5 linked regions of the Homo sapiens genome follow. The protein of the gene in region 5 purifies or fractionates together with the protein of the main gene of each other region. This does not show direct contact. Each region holds a gene or a part of one and is shown on either strand. Other genes may lie near its edges. The genes, in order: DLAT, KYAT3, RAB31, SDHB and SLC17A1.

Region 1 (3,518 bases), on a different chromosome or scaffold from region 5:
TTACATCACCAACATGATTTTTATTTTTAATTATCCTAACTTCTTTTTTTTTTTTCTTTTTATTTGAGACAGAGTCTTGCTCTGTCACCCAGGCTGGAGTGCAGTGGCGCAAACTTGGCTCACTGCAACCTCCGCCTCCTGGGTTCAAGCAATTCTCCTGCCTCAGCCTCCCAAGTAGCTGGGATTAAAGGCACGCACCACCACGCCCAGCTAATTTTTTGTATTTTCAGTAGAGATGGGGTTTCACCATGTTGGCCAGGCTGGTCTTGAACTCCTGACCTCAAGCGATCCACCTGCCTCAGCCTCCCAAAGTGCTGGGATTACTGGCATGAGCCACCACACCCAGCCAGCTAATTTCAAAATATAAAATTATGCTGTAAGGCCCCATGTTGAAAAGTATCTTAAGAAATACGGCCAGGTGTGGTGGCTCACACCTGTAATCCCAGCACTTTGGGAGGCCGAGGTGGGTGGATCACCTGAGGTCAGGAGTTCGTGACCAGCCTGGCCAACACGGTGAAACCCCTTCTCTACTAAAAATAAAAAAATTAGCCGGGCATGGTGGCTAACACCTGTAATCCCAGCTACTCGGGAGGTCGAGGCAGGAGAATTGCTTGAACCCGGGAGGCATAGGCTGCAGTGAGCCAAGATCACGCCACTGCACGCCAGCCTGGGTGACGGAGCAAGACTCCGTCTCAACAACAACAACAAAAGAAATCCAACAACAATGCTACTTGCCAGCTTCCCACAAATGTACAGTAGTCAGAAATCAACTTTTCTCTTATAGAAATGTTTACCTAGTTTAAACTCACATGATTCTAGCATCTGTGAGAATCACTGAAGCTTCACTGTCAGTGTTATCTCTGGTTGGAGTTATACAAGTTCAGGTTATAGTTATATAGTGTATCAAGTATTTGGTGATATAATAAATTCTAGGCAAAACAAGTCATGTCAAGGTTCCACTGTATCACAAATATATGCTTGACCTACTAAGTCAATAACAAGAGGATTTCAAGTGACAGAGATTATTCAGTATATTTAATAATAAATGGGCAATGAAGTGAGCTATGATTGCACCACTGCACTCCAGCCTCAGCAACAGGGTGAGACCTTGTCTCTTAAAAAAAAAAAAAAAGGGTGGGGCAATGAAGCCTTACTTTCCACAAGCATGGTATCTGTATCTAAAGCAGAAAGAGAACATGTCACTCAGCTTTGTTCTCAGCAGGACTCTAGATAGCAGGAAGAAAAAAGCTACAAGGCCCAAACTATCAACCATTAGGTGAACAGTGCAGTACAACAAACACTATAGGTCTCCACAAATGTTAATAAACTATCTCCCTCCTCAGTCATAGAATCTTGGAGGTGGAAGGAACCTAGGATATCATCTAATCAAAACTCCTTAATTTAGAGATGAACAAGGTAAGTGTTTCCTGAATTCTAGAAGCATACCTACCGGGGGTGGGGTAGGTGGTGGCACTTGTGGTTTTAAATCTGTTACTTCGGTTGGCCTATAGTCAGCAAATGCTGATATATCTGCCTCTTTTTCTACAATGATACAGAGTGGGGTTCCTAGAGGGACATCTCTTGTGCCTTCAGGGACCAGGATTTTTGCCAGATAACCTTCTTCCTGTACTTCAAAACCTTAAATAGAAAGAAAAAACATTATGGGACTTAAGAGATTCCACTATCCCTCCAAACTCACAGCACAGTTTTAAGTAAAGTGATTTTTCTCATTCAAGCTAGCTATATAGCCTTTTTTGCAACCTATTTAACCTTCTGTGTCTTGGTTTCTTTACCTACAATACGGGGATAATAATAGTACCAATCTCACTGGATTGGTACTGGGATGTTATACATTTAAACAGATTAATATTTTTCAAGTTCTTAGAAATAATACAACCTGGTACAAAGTAAATGCCAAATAAAAATCTGTTCAATAAAACTATGAAAGATTACAGACAGTGGTTAGTTCTCAAAGTTATTAAAAAATCTCCAAGGACAGTCCCCATGCAGACTCACAGGACTCTAAGATGGTGTCAGCTATGCTGCTAAAGATAAGAACCACATACATGCCTAATTAAGGGAGCTACCAACCTAGATACTAATGTTGGATTTCAGCCCTAAAAGCATCTTTGGAACTTTTCAAAGAGGTTATACTTGATATTATACCAAGTATTTCAATGTAAAGAATTACAGCTTTACTGGGATTTCTATGGTGTTGACAACTTATATTTTATTCAACTACTGCCTTCCTTGCAAAGAACTTAAACATTTAGGATTGCAAAAGTAAAACTAAAAGAAGCCATTGGCTTTCTGTACTGTTGTGCCTCTCCTTGATGAACACATCTTTGATGAATCCTTCCATTTCCCAGCTGAGAATACCCAATAAAAAATATGTTTAGGCTGGGCGCGGCGGCTCATGCCTGTAATCCCAGCACTTTGGGAGACCGAGGCGGGTGGATCACCTGAGGTCGGGAGTTCGAGACCAGCCTGACCAACGTGGAGAAACCCCGTCTCTACTAAAAATACAAAATTAGCCAGGCATGGTGGCGCATGCCTGTAATCCCAGCTACTCGGGAGGCTGAGGCAAGAAAATCACTTGAACCCAGGAGGTGGAGGTTGTGGTGAGCCGAGATCGTGCCATTGCACTCCAGCCTGGGCAACAAGAGCGAAACTCCGTCTCAAAAAAAAAAAAAAAAAAAAAAAAAAAAACACACACACACACACACACACACACACACACACATATATACACACACATATATATATATACACACACATATATATATGTTTAAGTCTGGAGATATATATATATATGTTTAAGGCTGGGCACGGTGGCTCACGCCTGTTATCCCAGCACTTTGGGAGGCCAAGGTAGGTGGATTACCTGAGGTCAGGAGTTCAAGACCAGCCTGGCCAACATGGTGAAACCCCATCTCCACTAAAAATACAAAAATTAGCCAGGCATGGTGGCAGGCGCCTGTAATCCCAGCTACTTGGGCAGCTGAGGCAGGAGAATTGCTTGAACCCGGGAGGTGGAAATTGCAGTGAGCCAAGATCATGCCATTGCACTCCAGCCTGGGCGACAAAGCAAGACTCTATCTCAAAAAAAAAAAAAAAAAAGGCTGGGTGCGGTGGTGGCTCACGCCTGTAATCCCAGCACTTTGGGAGGCACAAGGCAGTCAGATCACGAGGTCAGGAGTTCAAGACCAGCCTGGCCCACATAGTGAAACCACATTTCTACTAAAAATACAAAAATTAGCCGGGCGTAGTGGCATGCACCTGTAGTCCCAGCTACTCAGGAGGCTCAGGCAGGAGAATCGCTTGAACCCAGGAGGCAGAGGTTGTGGTGGGCCGAGATCACGCCACCGCACTCCAGCCTGGACAACAGAGCCAGACTCTGTTTCCAAAAAAAAAAAAAAGAAGTGTTTAAAATGAAAAGGCTCCTGGGCCACAATAGACTTCAAAGTTCAACCAAGGTAACACTTCTCTAGTGACTAGTCTCTATAGTGACACTGGTA
Region 2 (3,518 bases), on a different chromosome or scaffold from region 5:
TATCTATTCTTCTATGTCCCACAGACACCCAAACTCAGCAAGTTTAAAGCATGAGAAGCAGGAATTCCCTTTGCTCAGCCCTTCCATACAAATCTGCTCCTCTCCATATTTACCCTGGTTAAAGGTCTCATCACTGCTGAGTAGTTCAGGCTAGAGATCTTAGTAGCATGCTTGTTTTCTTCCCACCTTCAAATGCTATACTCTATAGTTTCTAAATAGCCCCGATGTACCATCTTCACTGCTAGGTTATCTGATTTGCTTAAGACCCTCCTCTGTGGCTGGCTCTCATCTTTGTAAAAAAAAAAAAAAAAAAATCTAGTCATGGAACCATTTCTCCTGTTTTGTTACACCTTTTGCAATAGTTCTCAAAGTAAGCTCACTGGCACTCTGGTGATCAAATTAATGTGCAGAATTTTAAAAAATCAATGTTAAGTTTTCTACCACACAATTTTCTTAAGCCTTTAGCAAATACTACCACTTATCTGATAGTGGATGCTCCAATAGTGAAACAGATGAGCATTTAGTAAATGCATATTAATGGCAAAATCAGAAAAACTCAAATGTGTTTATTTCAATAGCTTTTTGTTGTGGACAAGTATGAACAGAAGTGTGATTTTTATATTGGCTTCTAATTGTTGGATTTCTTTTAGGAAAATTGCTATTACTTTCAGGATGGAATTCACAATATCACCATTTCATGATGTAGAACACTGTGATCTCATGGTGATCTACCACTAAAGTAAGTTTCAGAACCACTGACCTCCTCAACAAAGTTTATACTCTATCTCATATTCAAAGTCCTTTAGAATCACCCTAGTTTTCCACCCTGATCTATGCCAGTTACTAAAACACACCCTCATAAATCAAACTGAGGCGAGGTTCTATGGCTTATGCCTGTAATCACAGCCCTTTGGGAGGCCAGGGCAGGAGGATCGCTTGAGTCTAGGAGATTGAGAACAGTCCGAGCAACATAGTGAGATGCTATCTCTACAAAAATTTTTAAAAAATTAGCCAGATGAGGGGGTGCAGACTTGTAGTCATAGCTATTTGGGGGGCTGAGGTGGAAGGATTGCTTGAAAGCAAAAGTTTGAGATTACAGTGAGCTCTGAGCCACTGCACTCCAGCCTGGGTGACACAGCGAGACCCTGTCTCTTAAAAAAAAAAAAAAATTAAGGCTGGGCACGGTGGCTCACACCTGTAATCCCAGCACTTTGGGAGGCCGAGGTGGGTGGATCACGAGGTCAGGAGTTTGAGACCAGCTTGGCCAACACGGTGAAACCCCATCTCTACTAAAAGTAAATTAGCCAGGCATGGTGGCATGCACCTGTAATCCCAGCTACTTGGGAGCCTGAGGCAGGAGAATTGTTGGAATCCAGGAGGCAGAGGTTGCAATGAGCTGAGATCGCACCACTGCACTCCATCCTGGGCAACAGAGCAAGACTCTGTCTCAAAAAAAAAAAAAAAAAAAAATTAAATAACTTATTTACCTTTCTTCTTCTTTGTTTTTAAAATTTCAATAATCATTTACCTTTCTTAAGTGTATCTTGATCTTTCATACCTCCTTATCTAAGTACATGCTAGTTTATGTTTTAGGAGTTTAGTTTCTATTTCTCTGTTTAGCTAATTCTCTATCTTTTGGCCACTCCTTTTTTATTCCCCTCAAACAGTCGCTTTCTCTTCCCATCTCTATAGCAACTTGTAATATACTATAGGAATAATTATGGCACATGCAACAATGCAACAATTTAATATATAAGTGCATTACATTTCTTATTTTTATTTTTCTTAAAAAAAATTAGCCGGGTATGGTGGTCTGTGCCTGCAGTCCCATCTACTTGGGAGGCTGAGGTGGGAGGATTGCTTGAGCCCAGGAGATGGAGGCTGCAGTGAGCCAGTGGTGCCTGGGCTCAAGGGATCCTCCCACCTCAGCCTCCAAGTAGCTGCGACTACAGGCACAGACCACCATACCTGGTTGATTTTTTGAATTTCTGTGTAGAGACGGGGTTTCTCCATGTTGCCCAGGCCAGTTTTGAACTCCTGGACTCTAGCAATCCACCCACTTTAGCCTCTCAAAGTGCTGGGATTACAGGCATGAGCCACTGTACCTGGCCTAAATTTTAAAATTTATCTATCTCTGCCACATTTTTTAGTCATCCTTCTCTTAATCTTTTCATCTTTCATCTTCATTTATTCAACAATTTCTTTCTAATTCTCTACCATGTACAAGATTCTATGGAAAATGGGGATGCAGAAGAGACTAAAACAAACAAAATCCCTCCATTACTGTGGTTTAGAAGTAAAATATATAGATTCTGATATTTACTATAGAGGAAAAAACAAAACAAAACAGAAAAAGGACAAAGCAAATGCTGGAGGGAGAGGTGTTAACTATTTTCAATGTGATGGTCATGAAAACTGACATTGGACAAAGGCCTGAAGGAGGTGAAGGATATTTGAAGTCAGGTGGATACCTGGAGGAAAAGTGTTTCCAGGCAAAGGAAAGGGAGGTGCGAAGACCCAAAAGTTGCAGCCCAGTTTGTAATCCTATAGTTGACATGGTTTGGACTACCCCAGCAGACAGTACGGCATTCATGAGATAGCCCAGTAGTAATGGCTGAATCTCAAGCAAGGGCCAAGCAGCATACCTGACTACCCCTGTAATTTCTTTCTGTTGACTTGGCATTTTGGTAAGTTGTTCAGCATAGACCGTCTAGAACCTTTTCAGGCACAAGAAAGCTCCCTGTGTCTTATGTACCAAGTAATTGCTGGATTTCTGCTAAGAAGCCAGGGATATATGGGCAAAAGAACTACTTTTCTGGTATCATAGCTTTATAGTATGATCCAAAATCTCTTACTCTTTGTCCTTTGAACTATTCATCAATTCACTAAAGTATTGCTCATTTAAATACTATTTTAAAGTGTTCATACAGACAGATACCCATTACAAAGACTGTTTTAGAGTTGGTCTGGGATGCTTTCCAATCAGTTCTTCCATATGTGCCCAAACACATTTAGATATGTGACTCTGTGTTATAGTTGGTACCTATTTTTAAGTGCTTATTTCCAGAATATACAAGCCATTCATAAACCTCATCGCTGATGCAGAGTGTGTCATATTTGATGCAAAGGTCAGCAATTACTTGCAGTTCCTCTCTGTTATACACCTACACATAATAAAGGAAAGAGCACAGCCAATTATTCAACATGTGAGAAAATGATAGGTCAGAAGACTGTATAAGGAGATGAGACTTGCTTACCTTGCCAAGTGGGTTATGTGGAGTATTTAGTATAATAGCTTTGGTTTTGGAATTAAATTTACTTTCCAGTTCTTGAGGATCTAATGTCCAGTCAGAACTAGACCATCTTTTTCCATAAACAGGTTTCTAAGCATGAAGAATGAAGATATAATTTAATTCAATTAAGTCATGTTTACTGTCTTACAAACGAATAACCTAATAAGGAAAAAAACATCAAAGAAAGTCATGGCAAAGGAAACTGAATAAATTACCAACAAATGC
Region 3 (4,107 bases), on a different chromosome or scaffold from region 5:
AATTGGATGAGCAGCTAGAAACACAGCCTGCTGCACACATCTCACCCAGGAAAGAGCCAGCCAAACGAGGGGATGTGGCAAATCTTACTCAGTGTGGACAACAAGGTCATTTGGTCTTTCAAATAAAATGTCCTCTGATTTCAATAAAACTGAAACTTACAGCCACCCTCAAAAAAAAAAAAAGGAAGCCACAAATGTGGTGTGATATGACTGATGTTTCTTTTCTTTTGTTTTCTTTTCTTTGAGATAGAGTCTCACTCTGTCGCCCGGACTGGAGTGCAGTGGCGTGATTTCGGCTCACTGCAACCTCCACCTCCCAGGCTCAAGCGATTCTCCTGCCTCAGCCTCCCGAGTAGCTGGGATTACAAGCATGCGCCGCTACCGCCCAGCTAACTTTTTTTTGTATTTTTAATAGAGACGGGGTTTGACCATGTTGGCCAGGCTGGTCTTGAACTCCTGACCTCAAATGATCCCCCCGCCTCAGCCTCCCAAAGTGCTGGGATGACAGGTGTGAGCCAACGCGACCGGCCACGATTGATGTTTCAAAGCCTCCGTCTGCCCAGAAACCTCTTCTTTCTCTGCTTTGGCATGGTTCTTCCAACTCCAAGTTCAAATTCCTACACACAGAACTGGCAAAGGTAAGGCACTGTCTGCAGGAAGCCACTCAAAGAGTGTGTATCTTTCTTGGAGATAAAAGAAGTAAAGAGATTTCCTCCAGCTTCCTCCTCTCCCAGGTTTGCTAATTGGCACCCTGAACTCATAGATTAGCAGGAAATGGTAACATGTATCTTAAGAGATCATCTGGTGTAGTCCTCTGCCTAAAGGGGGAACATGTTATTATGCCCATTTCATAGATGAGGCCACTGAGTTGCTTTGCTAAAACGACACAGCTCTTTGGTGGGAAAGAACGAGAGCCTAGGTTTCCTGCCTCTTGACACAGGGTTCTTGCCACCTGATCAGTGTCCTGGTAGGAGGACATAGAGACCTGTCCCTAAACACCGAAACTGAAAATAAGGGGTCCTGTGACACGGCAGGGCTTGGACCACCTCAGTAAAAGTCAAGAGAAAAGAGTTGCAGAAAAAAAGGCAAAAATATGTCCTATTTCACCTTTCCCAAGGCCAGTCCTGACAAACACGGCACATCAAGGCTGCCTCTTCATTCCTTGGAACACGACATTCCTTCTAAGTCTCTGAAGGCCTTTCCTGAGGCTGAAATGGCCCCTCAAGAGGGAAGCATGGGATTCCTGGAATTTATGTCTGGAAATATTAGAGGGCCTGGGGAACAGGAAAACCCACTCCTGCCACACAAAAAGGTCAACAGAGAAAGACCAGACTAGATCCTGGCTGTGGCTGAGCAAGTCGGGGGAGGTGGGGATCTGTGCGGATCTGTGCCAGGGGCTAGCAGGGAGGGCAGGGCCTTCCCAGATCCTCTGGAATTCTAAGCCAACCGGACAATCGAGTTAGCGTAAGGGATGGTTTTGGAAGAGGCCGGTGATGGGAGCCGATGATGGGAGCCTGCCGGAGGTTCCACAAGAGCCTAGAGGAAGCCTAGAGACGCTGGCACAATTCAGTCCTCACCGAAATCATTTCCTCTTTCTACAGTTCTTGTACCCCCATCTTGACAGATCAGTTCGCACAAGAATGCGACCCTTTCGCTGCCCTTTTTTAGGAAATGGTTTTCATGAGACCAGCTTTGCCAATGACACGGGCGGGTACACCAGATGCTAATGGCTGCTGAAAACGCCCTTAGAACCGGCTCTTCTTTTAGAAGAAGGAATTCTGGAATGCGGAGTGGGCCCCCGAAAGGAAGCGACCCTACGTTTATCTGAATTCCCAGGGGCGGTTCGCCAGCGGCTCCCTGCGTCCTCGCCGGGTCCCCTGTCTGCAGTCCCCGGGCCGCACGGATTGACTGCTTTTTTGTTTCTGGCTGCTTTAAGGCTTCTTCGGGCGGAGAAAACCCCACTTTAGGGGAGTGATGGTGGGGAGGACTTTCCCAGGCAGCTTCTTTCACCCGCAGCAGGGAAGTTTGCAGGGCGCGCTCCGCACAGGTCACTGCCTCACCTTCCACCCCGGCCGCGCCCTCGGCTTTCACCCCCTTGGCTGGGTTCGCTTTTGGTTTTATTTTTCTGTTTTACGTGAGTAAATCAATTGCCCCCAGGAGGCAAAAGAGCACTCAGCGACTTGGCTGAGCAACTTAAACTTTCTGCCGGAAGGAAACTATCAAAAGCGGAGGAGAAAGCCCTCGGGGCCCCAGACTCGCCGCCACTGCCCCGTCCCCGCTGGGGGTCCCCGCGAGGTCGCCGCGGATCCGGGGACTCGCGGGCCGGGAGGAAAGAGCGGAGTAAGCCCGGGGCAGGCTCGGACCCGGACCCCGGCAGGGTGAGAGCGGGGGCGGACCAGAGGGGCGCACGGACGGCGGGGAGGCGGAGAACAGGCGGGGTGCGGAGAGCGAGGGGCGCGGAGAGCGAGGGGCGCACGGACTAGGGGAGCCAGGGGGACCCGGGGAACCAGGGGGCGCGCGGACGAGGGGGACGGGGGCTACGAGAGGGGTGCGGAGAGCGAGGGGATCACGGGGACTGAGCGCGCAGGGAATAGGGGAGCGAAGGGGCGCGAGAGCGCGGGCCGGGGTCCGCCGGCGGGTGGCGGCCAGGACTCACCCCGAGAAGGCACACTTTGAGCTCCCGTATCGCCATCATGTGCTCGCAGCCAGGCAGTGCCGGGGCTCAGCAGCATCCTCCGGGGCCGCCGCGCCCGCGCCCCGCCGGCGTCTCTCGCCTCTGCCCCTCGCTCGCGCCGCCCGCGGGCGGAACCGCCGCCGCTGCTATTTCTGGGCCGCCGGCCCCGCCGCGGTGGGTCACGTGGCCGCCGGCCGGCTCCTCCCGGGCGCGTCGGGTCCAGCCTCGCCGGCCCCCAGCTCCCAGGAACGCCCCCGGACGGCGTCAGCCACCCGGGACCTGCGGCGTCGCCGGCGGATTGCCTCCGCCCTCGGACCAGCCCCGCGCGGGTCGGCCTCCCCCAGCGCCCTCCGGCATCCGCCCCTCCCGGCCCCGCCTGGCCGCAGGGCCCGGGTGGGTAGGAAGGACTGGACCGGCCCTGTGGAGACCTGGCCCCACTACCAGCGGGTCCCTGAAGATGCCATTCTCATCTGGAAAGCGAATGCTCTCGGCCGAGGCCGTTTGCGTGGCAGCGCGTGGAGGTCTGCGGGGGTCCCATCCTCAAGCGACATTCTGGGTCCCACGCAGAAAAAGTCAGGCCACTGAAGGGGCCGCTGTGAGGACAGGGGTGAGGAGAAGGGGGCTAACTTTTCGGCCTGCCTTTCTCGACGTTCCTAATACCCGAGCTTCCGTTTAACATATGTGTGGCTCTTCAGCTCAGCCAAGTTCATTTTTCTGTATGCAGCTGAAAATGATTCTAGAAGCAAAACTCGCTGTCCGTGTCTGAAACGGGAAACTTGCTTTCTGGAGCAAAAGTCTTTTTCTCAGTAGAGCAAATCCTGCAACTCGTGTGGGCAGAAACCCAGTCCTCAGAGGTACAGGTAGAAACGTGGAGATCCCAGCAGACCCCTGCATCGTTCCTAACTGGGAAATGAGCAGAGTCTGTGGCCGCACACAGTCGGGGAGGCTTGGGTAACTGTGTTCTCTTCTCCATGTATGGCCTAGAGCACCTCATCCACTCGGATGACTTCATTCGTTGCTGCTACAGAAATGTCAGCCTTTTCAATGTAATCTATCTGAACAATTCACTGGCATTTCAGATGGGAAATGTTTTTTTAAAAACTGATTTTTTGAAACTTCATCTCCTATCCCAAACTCTCAGGCCTCTCTCTTAACCTTCCAATTTTAATCAATGGCATTTCCATTCTCCTAGCAGACCACCCACCGTGATCATCTGGCTTTGTTCTTACGGAAGCCAGGTTGAAGCTACCCAGTACCCAAGTAGCCCCATCCAATGGGAAATTCCAAATCAAGGCCTCCAAAGAGATAAGTCCTGGAATACAGGAGTCAAAATGGGCCCCGAAACAGACAATTCACAATTAAATTCCCCAGAAGAGCAGGAAGTTTGCCCTCGAGGTGCAGGCTTGTAGAGATTACTCAAATGGACTAAACTG
Region 4 (2,424 bases), on a different chromosome or scaffold from region 5:
CAGTGAGAGGCCCCACGAGGTCATTTGTGGAACTAACTGGATTCACAACTGACCAGGGTCATTGCTCTGTGCTGGAGGAATCTCAAACCTGGCCTCACCGACGTATCCAAAGACTTACCAAGATTTGGTTTTCAGTAATTCTGGTACTGAAAACTATAGAAACTGGGAAGATACAGAACACTAACACTAACTGAGTGTTCAGAATAAGTGCCAGGCATTCTCATACCAGATGAATGAAGTAGGCACAATTATGGATCCCATCTTACAGATGGGCGAATGGAGCAGCAAAGAGGTGAAGGAACTTGTCCAAGGTTGTCTAGCTGGTGAGTGGCAAAGCTGGGAACAAGCTGCAGGCCCTGCTGATGTCAGTTCCACGGCTCATCACCTCCTTCCAGCTAGGGTACCCCCACCCCCGCTCAGCTCTGAAGCCCTGTCCATCTCTCCAAGGACAAGGACTCCTGGCACCTTCACATTCCCCTGCGGCAAGTAAAGGAACAGGTTCTTTTTTTTTTGTTAATAAAGTAGAATAACATTTATTTCTTAAAATTTTTATTATACATGCTGTATTCATGGAAAACCAAGATCTTTAAAGGAACTCAAATTAGATATAAATTATGTTCAGCTCTGAGCTGGTTATAAATCATGTTTAGCATGGAAACAGTTAAACTGAAGCTTTCTTCTCCTTATAGGTTGCCATCATTTTCTTGATCTCTGCAATAGCTTTCCCTGGATTCAGACCCTTGAAAAAAGAGAAAAGAATCAATAACAAATGATAACTGAAACTGAAAGGGAAAACCCACAATCTTGGGTGAAACTCCTTCCTCAGCTGGTTCAGTGTCCAAGCAAGGTGAATGCAAATCAAGTCCCTCAAAACCATAGGGGTTGGGCTAAGGGCTCTCTTCTGTCTACCTTTTTTAACATTTGAAGATGGTCAGCTCCCTCTGGCAAGAGCTCTGCCACGTTGAATTCCTTCTTGTGTGGCTCACTCTAACAGGTAAACAGGCCCAGGGCAGAGGTGCACTCTCTGACTGCTCAAAGACACTCAGGGTAGTGTCTCTTCTAGGACTACAGGCCAATGTCAAAATCAGCCAGACATCTCTAAATCTTTTACATCATCATTATTAAATAGGCAGCAGCAGAAATCAGCATATACCAGCTCTCAAAAGTATGTGGAAGAAACTACCCTCTCTATTAACCCTTTGTAAAACCATGATGATTTCAACTGGCCAATACCATTGGTATTAGCTGCAGTTTGCCCCTACAGCTGTTAACATCTGCTTTGCAGGAGGCACAATAATTAAACCCACTGAATGCCAGCTTCATTGAAGTAGAAAGTAGGAAGTACTTTACCAAGTACTTGCTTTTACCAAGCAAGTACTTGGTAAAATGAGACAAGTACTCATCTGACGTTAGTGAAGGTTCCCCTCATTTTAGAAGGATAAGTCTACCCCCCTAAAAAAGTGTTGTGGAAAGAAAGAAGAAAAGGAAAGAAAGAAAAGAGATCTTGAGAGAAGAAGAGAAAGAAAAAATATATATTTTTTTGACAGGGTCTTGCTCTGTCATCCAGGCTGAAGTGTGATCATAGTTCACTGTGGCCTGGAACACCTGGCTCAAGTGATCCTCCGGCCTCAGCCTCTCAAGTAACTGAAACTACAGGTGCGTGCCACCACACCTGGCTAATTAAAAAAAATTTTGTTTGTAGAGATGGGATCTCACTATGTTGTCCAGGCTGGTCAAAAAGACACTCTTCATATACCAACATGGGATAATCTCCAAAATATAGTGGGTGAAAAAATACAGATAAATGTGATATAAGAAAGACAGAAGAGGACACATATGCATTTGTGTGCAGCATAAAACACCTCTGAAGTTCACACAAGAATCTGACTTCTAGGGAGGTGGCTGGGTGGAGTGGGAGGGAGAATTTTCACTGTATATCCTTCTGAATCTGGATCTACCTGTGTATTTCCGGTCCCCACAGGGTCAGTAAGGGTGTTTAGACTTAGAAGGTTGGTACATACCCAATCCATGCAGGAAGAAAGAGCACTGGATGGGGAGGCAGACGGCCTAACTCTAGTCCTACCTTCCCACTGACCTGACAGTGATCTGGGGCGAGTCACTCCCCTCCCCACCTGGGGCTCAATTTCCCCATCTGTATAAGGGGATTAAACTTGATGGTTTTCAAGTCCCTTCCAGTTTCATGATCGGCCTATGTCTATGTCTCAGTCCCAACTTCCAGCCCTGTTTTACAGAAGGGAGGGCAAGGCACAGAGAACCTGTTCTTGGCTGTCTCAGTTGTCTGCTGCACCCATCCCCTCCATGCACAGGTTTGTGACCAGGAATGCACCTTAGAGTCACTCGCAGAGCTTCTGAAGAAACACACAGCCAGGCCCCACCACTGAAGATGCTATCTCTGTCTCAAAC
Region 5 (3,989 bases):
TCCTAAAATGCTTGGATGTCAAAGATTTACATGGTTCAATGGAGGATGAACACATTGCCCCCTTATCTTGTCAGTGGACTGCCAAGAAATTTTGTGCCATATGAACTTAAGAGCTGAATAGAAGGGGGTAAAAGAATACCCCTGAGAAATTTAATCATCAGCCAGCCCTTCCTTTGATTTGCTGCCTAAACTCAGTATCATAGGGAAGTGAATGGATCTAGAAAGCTATCAGAAACTTTGTAAACACACCTGCAGGAGTCTCTACATGGTAAAAGGGAAGTCATTGTCACCATGTCAGAGAAGGGCTCATTGTCTTAGTCATTTAGGGGTATGCTTTTGAGTTTTACTCATTTCTCTCCTCCACATTGCTCCAGGAAGTCCATGAATTATGTCTAAACAAGTTTTAAGTTAAAAAGAAGACCACAGGGGGAATTCTAAAGTGTTTGGGATTGAGTAATAAGAATACCGCATATCAAACTCATGGACAGAGTAAAATGTGCATCTGTAAATATATTTATCAAAAAAGAAAGAATTTAAACACTTGGAAACTGAGCAAAGGAACAAACCCAAAAAGTCTAAAAGGAATTAAATGCATAAGGGCAGAAATGAATAATATATAGAAAAAAACATATATATATAAACTTTGAATGCAGATTAAATGGACAACTTAAACAATCAAAATAATTAAGTATCAAAGTTGATACAAGAAGAAATACATAATTTAATATACAGTAACTTTTTCATAAGTTGAAAAAGTATACAATCTATCGCTCATCTCCTTTTCTGGGATTTTGTCCCCTATGACATTGACACAACGCTAAACCAATAGCAGTAATCCTTTATTGTCATTACACTACCCTGCCTAAAATAAACAGCTTCTCTCAAAAAATATTCAGTACACATTCAGCTGTTGATGTCCAAGAATGCAGGGACTCAAGAACATTCATCCTGCCTTACTTCCACTTACAGATCTATCTCTCTTTCTCTTGGAGATGGAACCAAAATAGCCCAGTTTTTTCTGATATTTTCCACTAAATGATAAACTGACAAGTGCGCAAAAATGAAAATAAAGTGTAAGCCACCAGAGTATGTAGAATCTTTTTATTTAGGGCTTTTCTGGTGGAAAACCATAGTAGGACTGGTTTCTTCTACCTTCTTTTCTGAACATTTTTAAGACCCCATATGTATATCACAAAAATATTCTTCCACATGGAATCTGTGATGTAATATTTAAGAAAAAGAACACCTGTTTAATGGAACAGAATAAAGTGCTACCTTTTTTGGGAGGCAACCGGTTATCCATTTGCATACACGGCTGAAGTTGCTTCTCTTCTTGCTGAAGGGTTTTGCCTCCACCCACTGTGAGTGCAAAACACGTTGATGTCAGCATAATGTAGAGAGGCAACTGACCAAACACTACCCAGTACTCCTCTCTGATTTAAAACCGCTTCCAAGGATAACTTGCTCCATCACAGCAGTGCCCATTCACCTCCATTATGTGCTTCCCTTGATATTTATTTTACTTTTGTGATTGTTTTGGTTGATTAAAAATATATGGAAGACCTGAAAACTACAGAGAACAAACAAATAACCCTGCCAATCCAGAATTCTAAATCCGTGATAATATTCCTCCAAAGTGAGAAATGGAAAGAATTCATTGCCAGTAGACCTGCCCTGTAAGGAACACTAAAAGAAGCCTTTCAGGCAGAAGGAGATTGCTATAGGTCAGAAACTCGGCAGTATGAAAAGAAAGGAAGAATGTCAGAAAAGGAGTAAGCAAAGGTAAAACAAATTCCTTTTTTCCCCCTGTATCTTAATAGAGCTGGAAGATACTATCTGCTTATTGATAAGATCAACTCAAGCAGAGGCTAATCATTCGTTACACGTCCACATGCCCCTGTCCGTATCTTCAGTTTCCGTGGATAGAGCAGCCACTGATGCAAAGCTTTATGGCAGGAAGCTCAGTGGAGAATCAGAATGGAGCAGTCTCCTATCAGGCAACCCCTTACCATCAGAATTCAGCACCAATATGTGCTGGTCAGGTTAGACCTCAGGATTTTACCATATCAGATTATATGATACCTAGTGCCCCAAAGATACCAAAGTCCTGAGATTGGATTTGCAAAATATTTTTGAATAAGCAATTTGTCAACCATCATTATCACACATTGGAACCTCTTCTGGGGCTGCTGTTTATTTCAATACATATATACATACACACCAAATGCACACACAAACCACCCATACGTATGCACCACATACATACATACAACATAAACACATGGTACAAACTCCCCTTATGTTCTCCACACATACACTCCAGACACATAGCAAACCAAACATATAAATACGTTACAATACTGCATCCTCAAAACGGAAGTACAAACTACAAACACCACACACATAACCACACACACACATAAATGATGGGCACAGATGCACCAGGCGTACACAGTGTGCCACACACATTACAGACACAGCACACCACAGCTATACAAGCATCACACACTGTACAACACATACTTCTCTTTCCTTGTGTCCCTGTGAACCTCACACTGATTGCTAAAAATATGTTCTTTTTTCTCTTGTGAAAAGCCTCAGAAGATAGGGCATATTCCACCCCTCCCCACATTTTCCCCTATTGCTAAGTACTTTCAATAATATCTTTGCCAGGGAATGCCCCCTTACGGCCCTCTGGGGAATCAACTGATTGCTCATTTCATTTAATGAGCCCCGTAGACTAACCTGATTCGGGACAAAAAAGTGATTTCTTCTTCCGCTGTGAAGACTTTTCTCTCAACTTTACACAATATTGACTTTCTAGGATTACCAAGTTTAGCCCCATAAATCATTCACCAAATCTTTTGACATCACTGTGTCGAAGTTAAAAGCTTAATTTTTAACTTTACTGTTACCTTTTCCTTAAAGCTTCAGGGAAGGTGTGTGGGTCAAAATCATCCAGTGGACCAGAAACTGGGAATCTGCCAGTAATTTCATGGCATAATAAGCAGACACCCTTAGTCTCTCTCCCTGCCCAGGAGGTAGAGCTTGCCTGCCATAAGTGCTCTCAAGATTTCTCTATTAAGGATGGCTCTGAGTATACAATGCTGTTCTCACAGGAATGTTGTGGCTTTCTAAATGCCCCATAAATGCCATATTAAATTTTTACTCTTAATTCCCTTCCTTCCTTTCTTCCTCCTTTTCTTCCTTTTTTCTTTCTTTCTTCCTTCTCTTTCCCTTCTTCCTTCTCCCTCCTTCCTTGCTTTCCCTCCTTCCCTCACCCTGTCTCCTCCACACTCCTCTCTAAACAGTACATCTGTTTGACATTCAGCATACTCAGAAAGAGGTACATTTTATTGAGGCATGTCCTCTGGAAGGTGTGGCTTCTCTCATGGCTCTTCCTGCAATTACTGTAGGTTCTGGTTCATCCACTTGGTTATAGCAATATCCAGAAACATTAAAAAAAAAACATAGAGAGACAGGATCTCACACTGTCACCCAGGCTGGAGTGCTATGGTGCAATTATAGCTCAGTGCAGACTTGAACTCCTGAGCTCAAGGGATCCTTCCACTTCAGCCCCAAGTAGCTGGGATTACAGGTATGCAACACTGTACCCAGCTAATTGGTAGAGACAGGGTCTTGCTGTGTTGCCCAGGTTGATATCAAACTTCCTGCCACAAGCAATCCTTGTGCCTTGGCCTCCCAAGTGTTGGAATGACAGGCGTGAGCCGTCGTGCCTGGCCCCTAATACTTTTAACTTAGAACTCTTTGAAGGTAATCTACTAATTACTTAAAAATATCCAAGCACTAAAATCAGTGATTTTGCATTATAGGTAATTTATTTCATGCTTAACAAGTTTTTTTTTAATTTTTATCATGCTTTTAAAGTGCTCATTAAATGTTTGGCACATAGCAGATGCTCTGTAAATTCAACCAGTTATTTTTTTCCTCTAAAGAAATGTTGTAAATCTTTAACCCCTTTGCCCAGG

What was found.
Region 1: the proteins of SLC17A1 (region 5) and DLAT purify together in Homo sapiens (affinity purification with mass spectrometry; one large-scale study listed by BioGRID and IntAct). This does not show direct contact.
Region 2: the proteins of SLC17A1 (region 5) and KYAT3 purify together in Homo sapiens (affinity purification with mass spectrometry; one large-scale study listed by BioGRID and IntAct). This does not show direct contact.
Region 3: the proteins of SLC17A1 (region 5) and RAB31 purify together in Homo sapiens (affinity purification with mass spectrometry; one large-scale study listed by BioGRID and IntAct). This does not show direct contact.
Region 4: the proteins of SLC17A1 (region 5) and SDHB purify together in Homo sapiens (affinity purification with mass spectrometry; one large-scale study listed by BioGRID and IntAct). This does not show direct contact.

The regions. Positions count from the first base shown.
Region 1 is NC_000011.10:112,035,393-112,038,910, reverse strand, and holds part of DLAT (dihydrolipoyllysine-residue acetyltransferase component of pyruvate dehydrogenase complex, mitochondrial isoform 2 precursor), read right to left. Parts: intron 1,639-3,518; coding exon 1,451-1,638; intron 1-1,450.
Region 2 is NC_000001.11:88,958,124-88,961,641, forward strand, and holds part of KYAT3 (kynurenine--oxoglutarate transaminase 3), read right to left. Parts: intron 3,384-3,518; coding exon 3,258-3,383; intron 3,165-3,257; coding exon 3,044-3,164; intron 1-3,043. UniProt on the Homo sapiens protein: Catalyzes the irreversible transamination of the L-tryptophan metabolite L-kynurenine to form kynurenic acid (KA), an intermediate in the tryptophan catabolic pathway which is also a broad spectrum antagonist of the three ionotropic excitatory amino acid receptors among others.
Region 3 is NC_000018.10:9,706,994-9,711,100, reverse strand, and holds the start of RAB31 (ras-related protein Rab-31), read right to left. Parts: upstream 2,801-4,107; 5' UTR 2,696-2,800; coding exon 2,657-2,695; intron 2,430-2,656; exon of another isoform or gene 1,108-2,429; intron 1-1,107. UniProt on the Homo sapiens protein: The small GTPases Rab are key regulators of intracellular membrane trafficking, from the formation of transport vesicles to their fusion with membranes.
Region 4 is NC_000001.11:17,018,220-17,020,643, forward strand, and holds the end of SDHB (succinate dehydrogenase [ubiquinone] iron-sulfur subunit, mitochondrial isoform 1 precursor), read right to left. Parts: intron 740-2,424; coding exon 662-739; 3' UTR 503-661; downstream 1-502. UniProt on the Homo sapiens protein: Iron-sulfur protein (IP) subunit of the succinate dehydrogenase complex (mitochondrial respiratory chain complex II), responsible for transferring electrons from succinate to ubiquinone (coenzyme Q).
Region 5 is NC_000006.12:25,829,249-25,833,237, forward strand, and holds the start of SLC17A1 (sodium-dependent phosphate transport protein 1), read right to left. Parts: upstream 2,805-3,989; 5' UTR 2,746-2,804; intron 1,360-2,745; 5' UTR 1,310-1,359; coding exon 1,276-1,309; intron 1-1,275. UniProt on the Homo sapiens protein: Important for the resorption of phosphate by the kidney. May be involved in actively transporting phosphate into cells via Na(+) cotransport in the renal brush border membrane. Plays a role in urate transport in the kidney.